Linked DNA regions of Homo sapiens: region 1 is linked to region 2. Evidence: fine-mapped expression QTL. Tissue or cell type: aorta. Region 2 holds a variant in brackets; the other region holds the start of a gene. All regions are shown on one strand. Distances are from middle to middle.

Region 1 (8,108 bases), 150 kb after region 2:
ATCATCTGCCTCAAAACCACTGATCCACATTGCCATTCTGTTCTGACCTCTGGCTGACTTGCTTAGGTATATTTTGAGAGCATTTTCTGCCCTGATTCTTATTTAAGCTGTTTATTGGATATTGATCTCTGAATTCCCTCCTTGATTGTAATTTGAACTCTCTTCCTTTGAATATGTTGTTTCTGTTCACCTCAGGTTAACAGCCTAGACTTCTTTCTTGAAATTCGCCACAGCGAAACCTTGTGATTCAGCCAACCAAACCAGTAATTCATACTCATCCCTCTAGCAAACGAAACCCTGAAGTTGCTAATGAGAAAAGGCATATGCAAGCCACAGTGTGTTGAGGCAGAGAAGGTAGCTGCAGAGGGCAGAAAGGAGTCTGATGGAGCTGGAGGAGGCTGTACTAAAACATAGTGATTATGAGCTTGGGCCCTGGGGTTCAAACCCCAGCTATCCCATTTCTTAGCTGTGTCCTTGGCCTGGTTATTTAACCGCTCTAACCCTCAACTCTCTACTCAATTTTTCCTAGACCCCAGTGCTAAGCATATGGCAGGTGTTCGATATTGAGTAAATGAATAAGTTCATATAGATGAAAAAAACAAGGCCCAGTATGATTGATACATATCTAATTAATAGCTAATGAAAAAAATGGCAATCCTCCATATTAAAGCCAAGCTACATGTCATTTCTTAGAGAAATAAAGTTAAAGTCTCATCAAAATGATAGATTTTATTTAGCCAATACTTCATAGTGCTAGACATGACACTCAGTGCTTCATAATTTCCTTGTGTATTTGCTATAATTATTGTCTCCATTTTACCTATGAGATAATTGAGATACAAAGAGGTTACAGAACTAATATGATTCCTAAAAGATTTACTCAAGGAATACTGTGATCCCTAACAAATAGCCTTTTTGAAGTGTACTAATTTGGACTACCATTTTCTCTGCCTCTCTGTTCCTAATTGTCACAGGTTCTTCCTCCCTACTGGACCACAGGCGTGTCTCAGCATTGGGAAGGGTCCTAGGATGCATTGTAAAAGAAAGTCTGTAATTTTGGTGCATCAAGGAACAAAAGTGTGGAAACATCCAGCCTGTGGCTGCTGGACACTCCCCTTCTTCCTTCTCACCATACTGTCTGTAATAAAGAATAAAGTGTTATTTAATATTCTGAGTGTACAGTCCTATTTTTTCTTAACCTGGCAAACCAGAAACAGCAACTAATATTCCTGGTTCTCTTTTTACCTTTCACAAGATCTATATCTACCTTAGAGGCTTCAGGGAACAAGAACAGCCTGGATAGTTTAAACCTAGAGTTAAACTACTCGAGGCATTTTAAGGTACCGCTACTTCACTATATATAAATGGGGTGGGGGGCTGGATTAAGGGCTAGAAGAATATATGAAGAGAAAGTGGCAAGCAAACCACTTGGAAAGCAAACCAAGGAATCAAAACAGTTGCTCTATCAAACTGAATATTCTTGCGCAGAACTGAATATTCTTTGCCCTCACAGTGTTTTGAAACATTGTCATAGGGTGCCAGGCATGTCCCAAAGGAGGACCCTGGAGAGAGGGCTTCTGAGCTGGGCTATCTCTAAACTGCTTCCAAGTTGACTTTGGAAAGATCACATGGGATTTTAGAAAAGTTATTATTATTATGACTTATAAAATTGTAGTTATTGAGTCAACTATGAATCTTGCACCTTACCTTGGAGATACAAGCTAAATACCTTGGACCTAGAGCTACTGCAAACCAGAATACTTTGGGGCATAATGTACCAAAAAAGCTTTCAGAGGCTTGAATTATCACAGTGTAAATATCCATCTAGCAGAGCAGGTAATTTTCTCGTTACTCATCCTAAGCATTAGATACTCTGTGTGTTAGTTCTTTGCAGAAATAACCCATAGCAGCTGAACCATTTTGGAACAAATTTTCCATCACCTTCCTTCCCTGTGTGGTTCAGGCCTTTGCAAACCCTGAGTATCATGAATCTGCTGGTTCTCTACTGGCAAAGATGATGACGTTTTCTTGTTTGTTTTTGTTTTGCTTTAATCATGCCGTGAGAAAATCCTAAGGGAAAAAAATCTCATTATCCTATTCAAAATACATTTAGGGTTATCTGGTCATCCCTAGCAGATTTTTATGTACCCAATGTTTATGTATCTCAAATTACACTCTGTTACCTTTCCCAGAGCAAGATGAAGAACCTCTAAGAACCTCTCAAACAGCATCATTTTCACAACAAGCACTAGCAATGGAAAACATTGTCACCACCACCAGCTAATCTTGTAGGGTCCATGGTATTTTCTGTAATGCCTTGAAACAGTCTGCCTCTCTCTTCTTGTCTGTCATTTTTATAGATGTCAGTGTGGGGCATCAGCAGTTGAAAACTCAGAATACCAAGCCAGTCCTTCCCTGTGACTGCTACATAGCTTTTGCCTGCAGGATAAGCCTCCATCACTGACGTAGTTGCTTTTTAACTTCTTTTTTTTTTTTAACTTGGAAAATCCCCCACCTCCTCCATTCCTTCACAAAACTTTCTGCCTGAATGATTTCTAGTCTGAGGGCCATACACACATTTTTTTTTCTCCCTCTGCAGGTTTTTTTTTCTCTTCAAACTTCCGCATGCTGCCTTTTTTTAAAGTGTCACACTTTGGAAAAAATTCTGACTACAAAGGATTTTGCAGTACATTGCATTCAAACCCCTTTCCCCCTATTCCAACTTGCTTTATAATGAAAGTAAGAGCCATACTCAAGAGACTTTTATTGGCAATTAAGTATCTAAGGACTTTGCAGATTTTCTTCTTTATTGTATGGCAATCTTAAATGTTTAATGAATATTTAAGTAAACAAATTTCAGCAACATGCCTTTTTTAGGAATTTGGCTTTAATTAACATCCAAACACTGTTAATTATTATGGCAAAAACATCAATACGTCAAAAAAAAGCCTTCAGGCCAGGGAATCTTTAAGAAACAATTATGTCTACTAATTTCGATTAAAGGTATCCTTTATTAAATTCTTAACAACCCGTCTCTTTCTAAACGCAGCGCCTTCACAACTCTTCTTCCCTTCCCCCTACCCCGCTTCCCTCCCTCCGCAATGGAGCGCAATCAAAGGCCGTATTATTGCCTAAGCTTGGCTCTCAGGCCAGCTAGGGATGTGTGTGTGTGTGTGTGTGTGTGTGTGTGTGTGTGTGTGGTGGGGCGGGGGTGGGGGGCGAGGGTGCAAGGGGAGAGGTTGTACGCCGCTTTTCCGAACCCAGCTCTAAATGGTTTCTCCTAAGCGAGACAAGGATTTTCCATAGCCTAAAAGAGGCCATCAAGTTTTAACATTGCGAGGCACGACTTCTAATCGCATCCTTCCCGGAAAAGTACAAACAGTTCCTCAGACGAGGTCCCCCACCTCCCACGCGCTCCCCAGCCCTCCCTCCCTGCGGAGAGCCCCGCGACAGCCTCCCCAACACCTGTGAATCATCCGGGAGGCTGCCACCGCCGAGCGATCCGCGCACCACCCCCTTCCCGGGCCCGGGCACGGCCAGGGAGGACAGTTAGGGTTGTTGCTTTATAATTATCACTTTTAATCTCTAATACGACCAGCACAAGTAGCCTTTGTCTCCCCGCCCTGATTTGAGCATCCGAGGGCCCCCCGAGGCAGCCTGCACGGGTACCCCGGGGTTTGCGCACTGAGTGAACCCCCAGATTCGGCCGTGTCCCAGCCGTCCTTGCTCTGAATCCCCCACCTCCTCCCGGCCGTTTGGACGGTTCCCTCGGGGCGTCTGTGCCTCCGTGGGGTACCCCTAAGACACCCAGCATGAAACCCCAGCACCGACTGCAAATTCCACCGAAAGCAGAGTCATCCGTTTTTGCCCTCGGCAAACAACTCAACTTCAAGCCTCGAGTCCTTGCAAACCCACGCTGGCTGGGCTAACTCCGCTTCCCTTCTCCTTCCCCCGACTCCTGCAACAGCTCAGAGAGCCTGGCTCTGACGTAGTTCAAAATAACGTGCGCCAGCCTCGCTGCCCGGCTGACCACAGCAACGAGAGCCACAAGCCCTCGACGCTGCTTCGATAACATGAAGCAATCACTCATAAAAATAGCAACCCACGTAGCCTGGCCATATATGGAGCTGGCGAGGGTGGACGGGGATGCCCCTACGGACCCTCTTCGGAGAAAACAAATCGCCGCTGAAATTTCCCCCACCCCTCCCATCACTACCTTTTACCCCTCCTCTGCCTTCCCCTCTCCTTAGATGACTCAACCACAGATTCCACTGAAAGGGGGTGGGGGTGGGGGTGGGGGGGAATATATACACATACACACAAATTATACATATATTATACATGTATTATAAAATATACACACACATACATATATACATACACACACATATACACATATGTACACACACACGCACACACACCAAAGAACATCAGGAATGCAGTTGCGGGATGAACGCGTTTGCCCAAGACCGAGTGTTAAAATGGAGTCATAAGAGTCGCCCCGTGCGGGTGTTTATAGAAGGTGAAAACACGCAGGTTTGCAGGCCAGCGCACTGGGAACCGAGTCAAGCGCGCCGCAGCCCGGGCCCCGCCCCCGCCCCCGCCGTGCCCCGCCCCCACTTCCTCCCGCCCCTCGCTGGGCGGCTATTAAAAGCTGCTGACGTCAAAACGGACGGCCATCTTTGATGAGGGCAGAGCTCACGTTGCATTGAAGACGAAACCTCGGGGAGGTCAGGCGCTGTCTTTCCTTCCCTCCCTGCTCGGCGGCTCCACCACAGTTGCAACCTGCAGAGGCCCGGAGAACACAACCCTCCCGAGAAGCCCAGGTAAGAACCCCCCTCCCCAGGTCGTGGCTCTGGCTCGGGATGGCTGCATACCCAGAAGGGACAGCAGCTGGGCAGTCCGAGTGGGCTTGGGTAAATACAAGTATTGGTGCACTTAGGGTGCGGTATTCCGTGTGTGCACGTCTGGTGGGGGCTTTATAAAGTGTTTTCGAGGTGAGCTGCTGGGGAAAAGGGAAACGGGAGCCCTGCAAATGGAGCGACGGGGAGGAAGAGCGAGGGTACGTACCGAATAATAACTTACTCTTTTGAAACAGTAGTGGGACCCCCTCTTTCTTCCATTTTGCGATGCAGTTTTCAGAGATATTTAGGCTGTTGAGTTTTCCTCCCCTGTCGTTCTAACCCTATTATTATGACTGTTGTCGTTAGGGTGCTATTATCCAGGGAAGAATTAAGGGGGAGACAGGGTGTGGGTGCTGGGGAGGCGAAAGGAGAAAGGGGGAGTTCCCGCCCCGGGCAAGCTGAGCTGCTGCAGCGACAGCAGCCTCCATGCCCCGCGGACTTGATTTATGCCGCCTGCTCCACGTCAACTGCAGGCTGGCGGGAGGCGGGCGGGTCGTGCCGGGTGGGAGGGCTCTGCGGAGGGCTGGCGCGGGTGGGCTGGCTTCGGGGACTGCGGCGGCCCGCGCTCAGCACCCTGGATAGCAACACCGAGGGCTCGCGCGGGCGCCCTCGACCTTTCAGCACCGGGGACAGCGGTCCGGCCGCAGCGCCTCATCTGCCTGCGGCAGAAATGCCTGGCCGGGGCTGGATGTGCCAGGGCTGGAGACCAAATTGTCTCCCTGAGACCCCGGTCTTACGGAGACCCTTAATAGAGGAGTCATAGTAGCTTAAAAGAAAACAAGAAAGAAATAAATCTTCCTCACAGAGACTCCTTTGCAGACAATTTCCTGTTCCCCTCCTCACCTCCTGCATAGCTTCAACAAAATAGTCTACTTGTGGAAATCTTCTGTGTTGCCCTCTGACCCTTATTTTACGTAGAAAATAAATACATTTTTTAAAAAATATGGATTTATCCTCCAGCAGGGTATCAAGGTTTTTGTTTGGTTTTGTTTTTTAACACAGAGTAGATCTGTCTACAGATCTTGGGTGAGCATAAGTACTGTATATATGAAGAAGCCAATGCTATCTGTTTATAGGGATGATACATCTCTCTCTATGTTTCCATTTGATAAAAATGTGAGATTAGCTGAACTAAGCAGAATCAACTTTAAGAATGAATCACTCTTCCTTTTCCTTCTTCCCCCATCCTTGCAATCAGGCATGAATACAAGCATTCATCCACAAAAACACATATCTGAGAAATTTTACTGGTCCTGTACTGAATAGATTTAACCTCTTTGGCCACGGTTTCAGAGTTACTGGAAGTATTTGCTATCAGCACTGGTTATCGCAGGCTGATAGCTTTAGATTTTGACAATATTAAGACTGGCCTTCCTCAGGAGAATCCAAGTGTGTCCTTCAGGGTAATGCAGGTAAAGAACCATGGTGTTAAACTAGAACTTAACTCTGACCTAAAGGTCTACTGCAATTTCTCTTATGGCACTGCGGGATTTTGCTGAGGTGGTAATAACTACTTTAACCATTTTCTACTCTGAGGCTTGGAGCATCTGAGAGAGCAAAAGTCATCAGGGGTATTTCTCTCTGTTTGATGTAGATAAAACTGGCATAAAAATGACCAGAGTCAAAATTATGCCATTTGAGTCATTAGCAAAAAAGAGTAACAGCGTCATATGTAATAATCTATACAATGCATTAAAGAAACGCTATCATGATCCCCTTAAAAGACCCCAAATGAGAACTTGGATTGTGTTTAGATAGTCATACCTCCTATCATCTGTATGCTACAGACACTAAAATTCCCTGTCCATATACAGAAGGTAATTTCATTCGCTGCTATTTAATTATTTCCTAGTGTTTTTTCTTTTTATAGATGACCATGTGTTTCCATGTATGTATATGTTGATCTGTTATTTTGCATGGATGTAAAATTATTTGGGTGGACATTTATATATGAGTATGTAAACGTATAAAAGAAGTTTATAACTTTGCAATCTGCAGACAAAAATAAACAACTGTGTTTTAGTAGTGGAGGAGAGAAAATATGGGCAGGAATCTTTAAAAATGCTTTAACTTCATGCTGCATGTCCAGACAGCTGTCTGCGTAGTTGCGTCAAATGAAAAGCCTAATGCTGCCGGAATTACGTGCTTGGACATTAGTAATTACTGCTGGGTTTGTTTGCTAGTGGAAGACTGGGGAGGAGCGGGGGAAGTAGAGGACCGCAGTGAAGATGGCAAAGGGCACAGAGCTGAGAGGAAGAAGCAATGTGCACAATTAGAAAGCTAATTTTAGAATAGCTTACTGAGAAATTTAAAAAATATATCATTGAACCATGAATTTAACATTTATATCATTGACAAGCTTCCAGGGAAAAAAAATCGAGAAATTTCCCATTTTAAGTTAGAATTTTTAAAATCCAGGGCAATGCGGTGAGAAGAGGCAGGAGCAGATGGACATAGGATGAGCCAGGAGTCATTCACACAGACCCTCTGATGCCTGTTTGTTCATCGGCATTTACTGCATTACCACCTCAGTGTTCAAATTACAGAACAATTTACAATCCTCTTAACCTCTTCATGGCAAAATCTCCCAAGAATTCACAATTTTATTTTTACTTTGTTAAACACGCACAACCACACATGCACAAACACAATGCAAACTACCCGTTAATTAGCTTGTCTAAAGATATTCCCAAGCTCTAAATGTTAACCCTTGAGTGAGGGTTATCAGCTGAAAGACATGTTTCTGCCAGTGACACCTAGAAGCTGCGTAAGCAGTCAGCCTTCAGCATAACACGTAGGTTTTGACGATTAGTAGAAACGAGAAAAATAATCTGAGAAAGAGGTTGAGAGAGGAGACATGAAGGAGAAAAATAGAAAATATGCTTTTTAGATAATTCACTATGAATAAACAATGTTTCTCACATTATGGGACTGCTTTACAATTCTATAAAAGAAGGAAAAATCTGTGTTTTAAGCCTCAGCGCTGGATACTTTCTGCAATGTCATCCCTTGTCAGCAAGTACCAACCTGATAGGAAGATACTGATCAATCGGTATTCACCGGATACAGAAATGAATCCCATGGGAGTTATAAAATTTCATGGTTTTGTCTTGACCTCAATAAGTTTAGCATCTAGCAATCTTAATAAAAGCAATAAACAATAAGTTAATAAATAAAACCAGAATTAAATGCAATAAAACATTA
Region 2 (8,108 bases):
ATTAGAAGTGAGAAAAATAAGTGAGAGAAATAAGTATTCCCTCATAAAAATTAAATAATGAAATTAACACATAAAGAATTAAATGAGCAATGAGTATTATTGATGTCTGAATATATCTCACACTAAAGCAACACTTCCCAACACTTCCCAAAGCTAACAAGTCAGCCAGAAGGAGAATTGATCAGCAATAGAAAATCATGGAATGAGAGTACCTAGGCAGACCTTGTGTGTTCAGACTCTGCAGACCTCTGGTCCATATAACACATGCGTCTCAGTTAGAGATTGAGACTTTTCATGATGTCCAAGGTTGCTACTGCCAGAATGCTGAATCTATCAGCAGCCCTTGTTCTACATACAATTTGGTTTTATTCATTCAGCATATATTTATTGAGCACCGATAATGAAAATCCTAGGTCTGTTCCTTGCTCTCTTCATGGTGCATGACAGGAGAGCAATTCATCCAGTTTGCATGTCCCAGGTTTCTGCATTATTTGGCTTCCAGTAGGATCCAGACAACAGGAGACAACAAAAGATGAGAGAGGGAGGAGAGGAAAAGCCAGGTAGTTCCCCCTTTCCATCTTTGCCTTTGTCGGCATCCCCGTCAACAGCTGTGTCTGTCTCCCCCATGACTCCACTCCCCACTGTGTGGGGAGCTGTGTATCCTGCTGTGGTCCTAGCCTCCCTCATGTGACCCTGGCCCCTAGGCTCTGGTAGTACTACCCACTCCCTCTGTCCCTTAAGCCTCCAAGGGTGGTACCAGCTTCTTTTGTTGTTAGTCTCAGGGCTGCCTCACTGTGCTCTGGTTGTTTCCTCAGCCTCTTCTATTGCTTGTGCAACCAAATCCTCCCATTAACTTCCATTCTGTAGGAACTCAGAGTTGTTTCTGCTTTCCCATGTGGATCCTGATTAATCACGTATCAAGCACAATGGCATGTCTGGATAAAATGGAATGCAAAACCAGGAATAGCCCCTGCCCTCATGGAGTTTATAGTTTCGTAGGAAAAGCATATTTTCATAGAATAATCCTAAAATACTTATGAGATGATTGCACAAGATTGAATAATTGAAGATTATCAAAAGACTCACAAGATTTCACAGTGTGTATTTGAGTAAGGTTTTAATACAGGTGAAGGATACATTAGGACACAGAGCACAGATGATCACAGAGGGGTCTAGGGCTTCCAGGCACAGCCCCCCAGGGTCCATTTTAATCACTCGGTACAGGACACATTTTATCTTCAGATTATATACGATCACCGTAAGTGTGAGTCCAGGTATATAATTTATTGAGGGGTCTTTCATACCCACCAGCCATGTAGCTAAACCCAGGCTGTATACCCTGTTAGACCAGGTACAAACTATCAGTCTATACAGTCCTAAACAATGTAGACAAGCTAATACAGGCTGCCTCCAGGGGAATTTCGAGCTTTAAATAGCACATTGCACATTATAAAGTCCTCAGTAGCACATTTCATTCTTACCTTGACCAGACTTCAAGCATCCCAGGAGACAAACAGAGGGCTACCCCAGGATAGCTGCAAGGTAACGCTACCTTATACAACATATGAACTTATAGTGGTGCTACAGAATAGGGGAAATTTTCACTAATGAAATGGTATTTTAGCTGAACTCTAAAGAATGAGTGAGGAATTAAGTTGACCCAGAGGGAAGAGAGGAATTGAGTAGAAGCAGCAGCATTTTGCAGTGCAGACCCATTCCAGCAAGTGAAATAAAAGCAATGTGACAAGAAATAAATAAAAAATGGTCAGGGAAAAGAGGCCAAAGCCACATCCTGGAGAGATTTGTAAGACAACCATATGGATTTGGAAAGTGATGGATTTCCATTTGATTCTGCTGATTCGTCCCTTGTCCTAGAAATTTTCTTGACTTTAGCAACACCACAGTTTCCTGGTGCTTCTCAATATCCTTTGTAGCCATGCTTTTTGCATCAGGACTCTCAACACCAGCAGACAATAACAAGAGAATTATTAAGACTTAGAAAAAGAGAATTCTTAATACAGAATTTCAAGGGGTGGATTGAGCAAGACTGGAGGCAAAACATCTTCCCTGAAAACCATTTCTCTCTTCCTTGCTTGCTGACATTCTCACTGTCTGGCTCCCTTGCTCTCTCTACTTGGCTTTAGTCTGTGTGAGCTCCAACCTTAGCTAGAATGTAGCAAAGATGTCCACCAGAAGCTCCAGGGTTACATCCTAGAACTCCAAGTGAAATGAGGTACTCTTTCCCAGCTGGTCCTGTGAAAACCCTGATCGCACTCTCAATGGTCAGGCTTGAGTCAAGGGTCTTTCTCCACACCAGTCATTATACAACAGGACACAAGATTCTGATTGGCCAGATCATTTTGTCAGCCCATGACTCAGGGAATGAGTCACTCTACCCAAAACACCAGACTGCTACTTGTATAGGTGTGGGCTCCCAAGAAAAAGTAGGGATTATTCTTCCCCAAAAAAAGAGTTAGGGATGCTGGAAAGGCAGAAAGAAAAGGGAAGGGAAGAGGAAGGGGAAAAGGAAAGAAAAAAAAGAAAGAAAGAAAGAGAAAGAAAGAGAAAGAGAAAGAAAGAGGAAAGAGAGAAAGAGAAAGAGAAGGAAAGAGAAAGAAAGAGAAGGAAAGAGAGAAAGAGAAAGAGAAAGAGAGAGAAAGAAAGGAAGGAAGGAAGAAAAATGAAGGGAGGAAGGAAAAAGGAGACAGGAAGGAAGAAAGAAAAAGAAGAAAAAAGAGAGGGGAAGAAAAGAAAGGAATAAAGAAAGAAGAGAAAGATGGAGAAGAAAACAAACCAAAAAAGTGGCTACTACAACCTCCGCCTGACCATTAAATGTCGGAATTTCTCAAGACTCAGTTTCAAACCTTCATCTCACACTACGAGCTCTCCCTAGGCAAGCTCATTTGCACTCTCTCCTTGGAATGACTCCCACATTTGTGTCTTAAGCGTAGTTATTTCATCTAAGCCTACAGAAACATATCTAATTATACTTGACATCAGTTCTTGAATTTACAAACGCTCCTGAAACTCAACAATTCCCAAATCAAACTTTAGACCTCTACTGCCCATCCTTAAGTCTAGTTTACTTCGAGTGTTTTCTAGTTCAGTAATGGAACCACCAACATTCTGCTATGAAAGCCAAACTCCCAGATATCATCATGACTTGCTTCCCCAAGCACCCACCCACCCCAATTCAACTCCATTTAATCTCATAAATTCTTGTGACTCTTCCTCCTACTATCTCCACCCTTACCGCCGTAGTCTACCTTATCATCTTACCCAGAAAACTGTAAGAAATATTCTGATCTGTTCTTTTATCTCCTTCTGTCCTGCAGTCTATCTATACATTGATGCCAGACAAGTCTTTTCAAGGATGAAAAGTGATTACTTCAGTACTCTACCTACCATCTAATTAAAATACTTTCAAAATTACTGATTTTCTTAATAATATAAGAAAATGTATGTGAACATGGCCTATGATCACCTGAGCGGTCTGAGCATACTTACTCCTCCCCCAGATCAGGCCTTTAAACACTCTGCTGTAGACAGTCTGTTATTTTATTTTATGTACATGCTCCCACCTTCCATTAAGTTTTTGCATAAACTGTATCCTCCTTGTCCAGGAATTCATTCTCCCTCCTCTTCCCCAATACCTCATCTGCTTAATTTTCCATTCCTTTTTCATCTCAGAGAAATCATCTCTTTGTTAGGGCAGACTTCCTCACCTTCCTCACGAAGTTAAATTCTCTTCCTATATACATTCATAGATCACAATGCACCTTCCTTCACGGCACTTACCGCAGTTGCAACTATATCTTCACCTGTGCAATTATTTGAATAATATTTAATTATTTGACACCATAACTGTCATGACTGAACATTCCAAAATATACCACATATTTTCTGGCCACATTGATGGGATTATAACATAATATAAACTTGAATTATTTTAAAATTTGTGCACAACTGAAAATCACGTATGTACTTTCTCAGTGCCTCTTTATGTGGAGAGTTTATCTTATACTAATTCATCCCTGACTATTGTACTCCTGAGTTCCTGCCTCTGTTCTTTAGAATGGTTTCTATTTTTTTTCTGCTGGACTGTATTAGCCTTTCCTTTTGCCACTGGGAACATAGCTGTTTGTAGCTATCCCAGGTGTATAAGTAACCTAAATGGCTGCTTATAATTTCTGCCCACTAGGAGAGGGACTCCTTTACTCCATTAGTCTCCTGTTTGAATCTTAACTCTGCCCCAGGCTTCAGGATACATAAACACTGCCAATCATTCTTAAGAAGTGAAGGGATTGCAAATAAGCAAAGAAAAAGTA[A/T]TTTTAAACATTCTTTCCAAATGACCTTGCAAGAGTTTTTTCCATTTTTAGAGGGAATAGTGGGAGTCAGAATTGGCAGAATAAAAGCAGCGTATTCCTAGACCATATATCAGCAGATAAATGTGTTCTGCAGCATTAAAATTACCCTTGTGGTGCTCATTCCTGGATGTACCATGTGTTCTGTGATGTAAATCAGTACATAGCCTTATATTTTCCTCTGTGTCATGGACCCACAGAATTGCAGTAGCATGAACTGGTTGGCAACAAAATTCTTTCCAGTGCTTCATAAAGCCTTTGGCTTTTCTTCATTTGATATGTGTGAGTAGGAATGCACAAAAAACAAGAACAGATGATATTATTTAAACCGTTTGGTAAGAAATGTCTGACAGGAAAAAAGAAAACATATGTATCGATTCAAGTGCAGTAATTCGCTTGGCGGTTTTCTATATTATCCTTTCTACTTGTAAAAATCATCTCCAATGCAGCAAAATGTTCTTAAATCCTTTATACTTCATTCTAAAAATCAATAGTCCAAAGATGTTAACTCTTTTTGGGCTTTTGGAAAACAAAACAAAAACCAGAAAAGAGAGGATAAATGTTTTCATTTTTATCTAAATTTTTCTGGTTGTTTCTGGTTTTTCCGTCTCCACTTCATTATTACTAACATGGAATTATTGATAAAGCTTAAAAGAAGAGAAACACAAATTCAGACTTTAGGAACTCACTTGAAATCCTTACTTAAAGACTAAAAGTCATTCATTTATTCATTTCATTCAATAAATACTAAGGATCTACTATTTTCCAGTTGGCCTCTTTGGCACTGGTGTATAATGCTACACGCAGCACTCACTGCTCCCTTGGTTCCTGCCACCATAATAGGGAGATAGCAATTAAATAAACACAGCTATATTATTATAAATTGGGATGCATGTTACCATGGAAAAGTACTGGGTGGAGTTTTAGTTTGAGAGTCAGGGAGTGCCTCTCTGAAGAAATGTCTACTATGAGACCTAAAAAATGAGTAGAAGTTGTCAGATTAAGGGGAGGAAAGGTGTTTTAGCCTGTTTTCTGCTACTATAACAGAATACCACAAACTGTGTAATTTATAAACAATAGACATTTATTTGGTTCATAGTTCTGGAGACTGGGAAGTCCAAGGTCAAGGGGCTGCATCTGGTGAGAGCCTTCTTGTTGCACCATAACATGGTGGAAGGGCAAACAAGCAAGTGAGACAGAGAGAAAAAGTAGGCCAAACTCCCAAGATAACTAGCCTACTGCCAAGATAACAGCATTAACCCATTCATAAGGACAGAGCCCTCATGACTAACCTCTTAAAAGCCCCACTGCCTGATAGAACTATATTGACAGTTAAATTTCAATATGAACTATGGAGAACAGTTTGGAGGTTCCTCAAGAAACTAAAAAAATAGCTACCATATGATCTAGCAAGCCCACTGCTGGGTATATACCCAAAGTAAAGGAAATCAATATATTGAAGGGATATCTGCACTTCCATGTTTGTTGCAGCTCTGTTCACAATAGCCAAGATTCAGAAGCAACCTAAGTGTCCATCAAGAGATGAATGGATAAAGAAAATGTGGTACTTATACACAATGGAGTACTATTCAGCCATAAAAAAGAATGAGACCCTGTCATTTGCAGCAACATGGGTGGAACTGGAGGTCATTATATTAAGAGAAATAAGCCAGGCAAGAAAAGACAAACATTGCATGTTGTCACCTATTTGTACGATCTAAAAATCAAAACAATGGAACCCAAGGAGATAGAGAGTAGAAGGATGGTTACCAGAGGCTGGGAAGGGTAGTGGGGAAATGGGAGACAGGGTAGAAAAGGTTAATGAGTACGAACAATAATTAGAATGAATGAATAAGGCCTGGTATTTGATAGCACAATAGGGTGACTGTAGTCAATAGTAATTTAATTGTAAATTTAAAAATAACTGTAATTGGATTGTTTATACCAGAAAAGACAGACGCTTGGGGTGATGGATAGCCCATTTTCCATGATGTGATTACACATTGCATACCTGTATCTAAACATCTCATGTACCCCATGATGCAACTACCATATATCCACAAAAATTAAATATAAAACATTATATAAAAATTTCCACATAATTTTCAAAAGGGATACTCTATAGTGGCGTGGGGAGGCAATCTACACATGAGGGGGAAATACCTGCCACAACTCTGAGGCCAGAAAGAGCCTGGCTTGGTGAAGAGCAGGAAGAAAACCAGAAAAGCTTGCACAAAGATGGTGGTAGCAAGGGGAAGCCAGCTTAGGACAAGGTTGACGAAGAGGACGGGGCCAGATATCGAGGAACTCGCAGGGAAGAGTAAGGAGTGTGGATTTCTTTCCAAGTTCAATTGGTTTTCACATTGCTGATAGCATCTCCCAAGTGATTACAAGTCACATTGCTCTGTATCATCCATAAATTATCCTCAAGAACTCCTAGGGCCATAACAATTTTATGAAGGACTCAGCTCTGATAATAGAAAGTCAATATTTTTAGTCTCTAGCTTTTCAAGTAGGCAGCTGGAAGTATAGCCAAAGGATTTCAGATTTCACAAATGTGAGATCAAGAGACATCTGCTAGTCTCTGTTCAATCTCTAATTTTCCTGTGTCTTTCTAAGTGACACAGAATTAGTAGGCTTAGAATTTGCTGTAAAAACTTGTTAAATCCATGCTTTGTTCTTTAACAGCATCTTAGCTCTTCTGCTTACTAGCTTTGTGACTTGGCAAGTTGTTTGACCTCTCAGATTCTGTTTTCTCATGTATAAAATAGGGACACACTACAGTAGTGATTAGCACTATTCACCAAATATTTCCTGCTCTCTCCACTTTGGACACACGGTAGGATTATACTCTCTGCCCCATTCCCTTGTAGTTAGGTGGTGTCAGGTGACTAGTTCTGACGAATGAGCTATGCATGGAAGTGAGGTTTGCCATTTCCAGGCTGGAGCTTTTGATTGCAAGTGTGAGGCTCTCTGAGCAATCCTCCCCTCTGCTGCCGGCCGCTCTGTCAGCCTAGGAAATATGGAGTAGGATGCAGAGTTGCCCATCAATGGACATGGTGGGTTATAAGCAACTGGGACTTTAGGTTATTGACCAGCCTCACTAACAGACTTACTTCATAGGTTTGTGATTAGAACTTGTATTCATCCATTCTTACACTGCTATTAAAAATACCTGAGACTGGGTAATTTATAAACAAAAGAGGTTTAATTGGCTCACAGTTCTGCAGGCTATACAGGAAGCATAGCAACTTCTGGCTCAGGGGAGACTTCAGAAAGCTTCCAATTATGGCAGAAGGCAAAGGGGCAGCGAGGCACTTCACGGCCAGAGTAGGAAGAAGAGAGAGGGTGGGGAGGTGCCACACACTTTTAAACAACCAGCTCTCATGAGAATTCACTCACTATACAGTATCAAGCAGCGGACGATGCTAAACCATTCACGATAACTTTGTCCCCATGATCCACTCACCTCCCACCAGGCCCCTTCTCCAACACTGGGGACATGGTGATTTGGGTGGGGACATGCATGATTTGACATGAGATTTGGGTGGGGACACAGATCCATACCATATCAGAACTTAATGGGATAATAGACACTAGGCAATTGTTATACTATCTGGCACACTATGAAGTACTAAATATAGGTTTCTATATTTCAAGTAAGCATTACCGGATTTCTCTGCCCAAGCATTTGCGTAGCTTTCAGGATTTAATTTTCAAGCCCAGAATTGAATGATTCAAGTT

Evidence for each region. PIP is the estimated chance that this variant, and not a neighbour inherited with it, causes the effect.
Region 1: SNAP25 starts here. The variant in region 2 is fine-mapped to the expression of SNAP25 in aorta (GTEx, PIP above 0.99). The same link has a PIP of 0.9 or more in tibial artery.

Annotation. Positions count from the first base shown.
Region 1 is chr20:10,214,152-10,222,259 of GRCh38, forward strand. SNAP25 (synaptosome associated protein 25) reads left to right here and starts at 4,679. Exons shown (of 8, transcript NM_130811.4): 1 at 4,679-4,826. It overlaps SNAP25-AS1 (SNAP25 antisense RNA 1), which reads right to left and starts at 5,355. Exons shown (of 5, transcript NR_040710.1): 1 at 5,086-5,355. LOC124904959 (a long non-coding RNA gene) reads left to right here. Exons shown (of 2, transcript XR_007067723.1): 2 at 975-1,168.
Region 2 is chr20:10,062,988-10,071,095 of GRCh38, forward strand. The region is part of intron 3 of SNAP25-AS1 (SNAP25 antisense RNA 1); the gene reads right to left. Among named protein-coding and RNA genes, the nearest start is that of ANKEF1, 32 kb to the left of the region's middle. The variant A/T (reference allele first, on the strand shown) is at 4,329.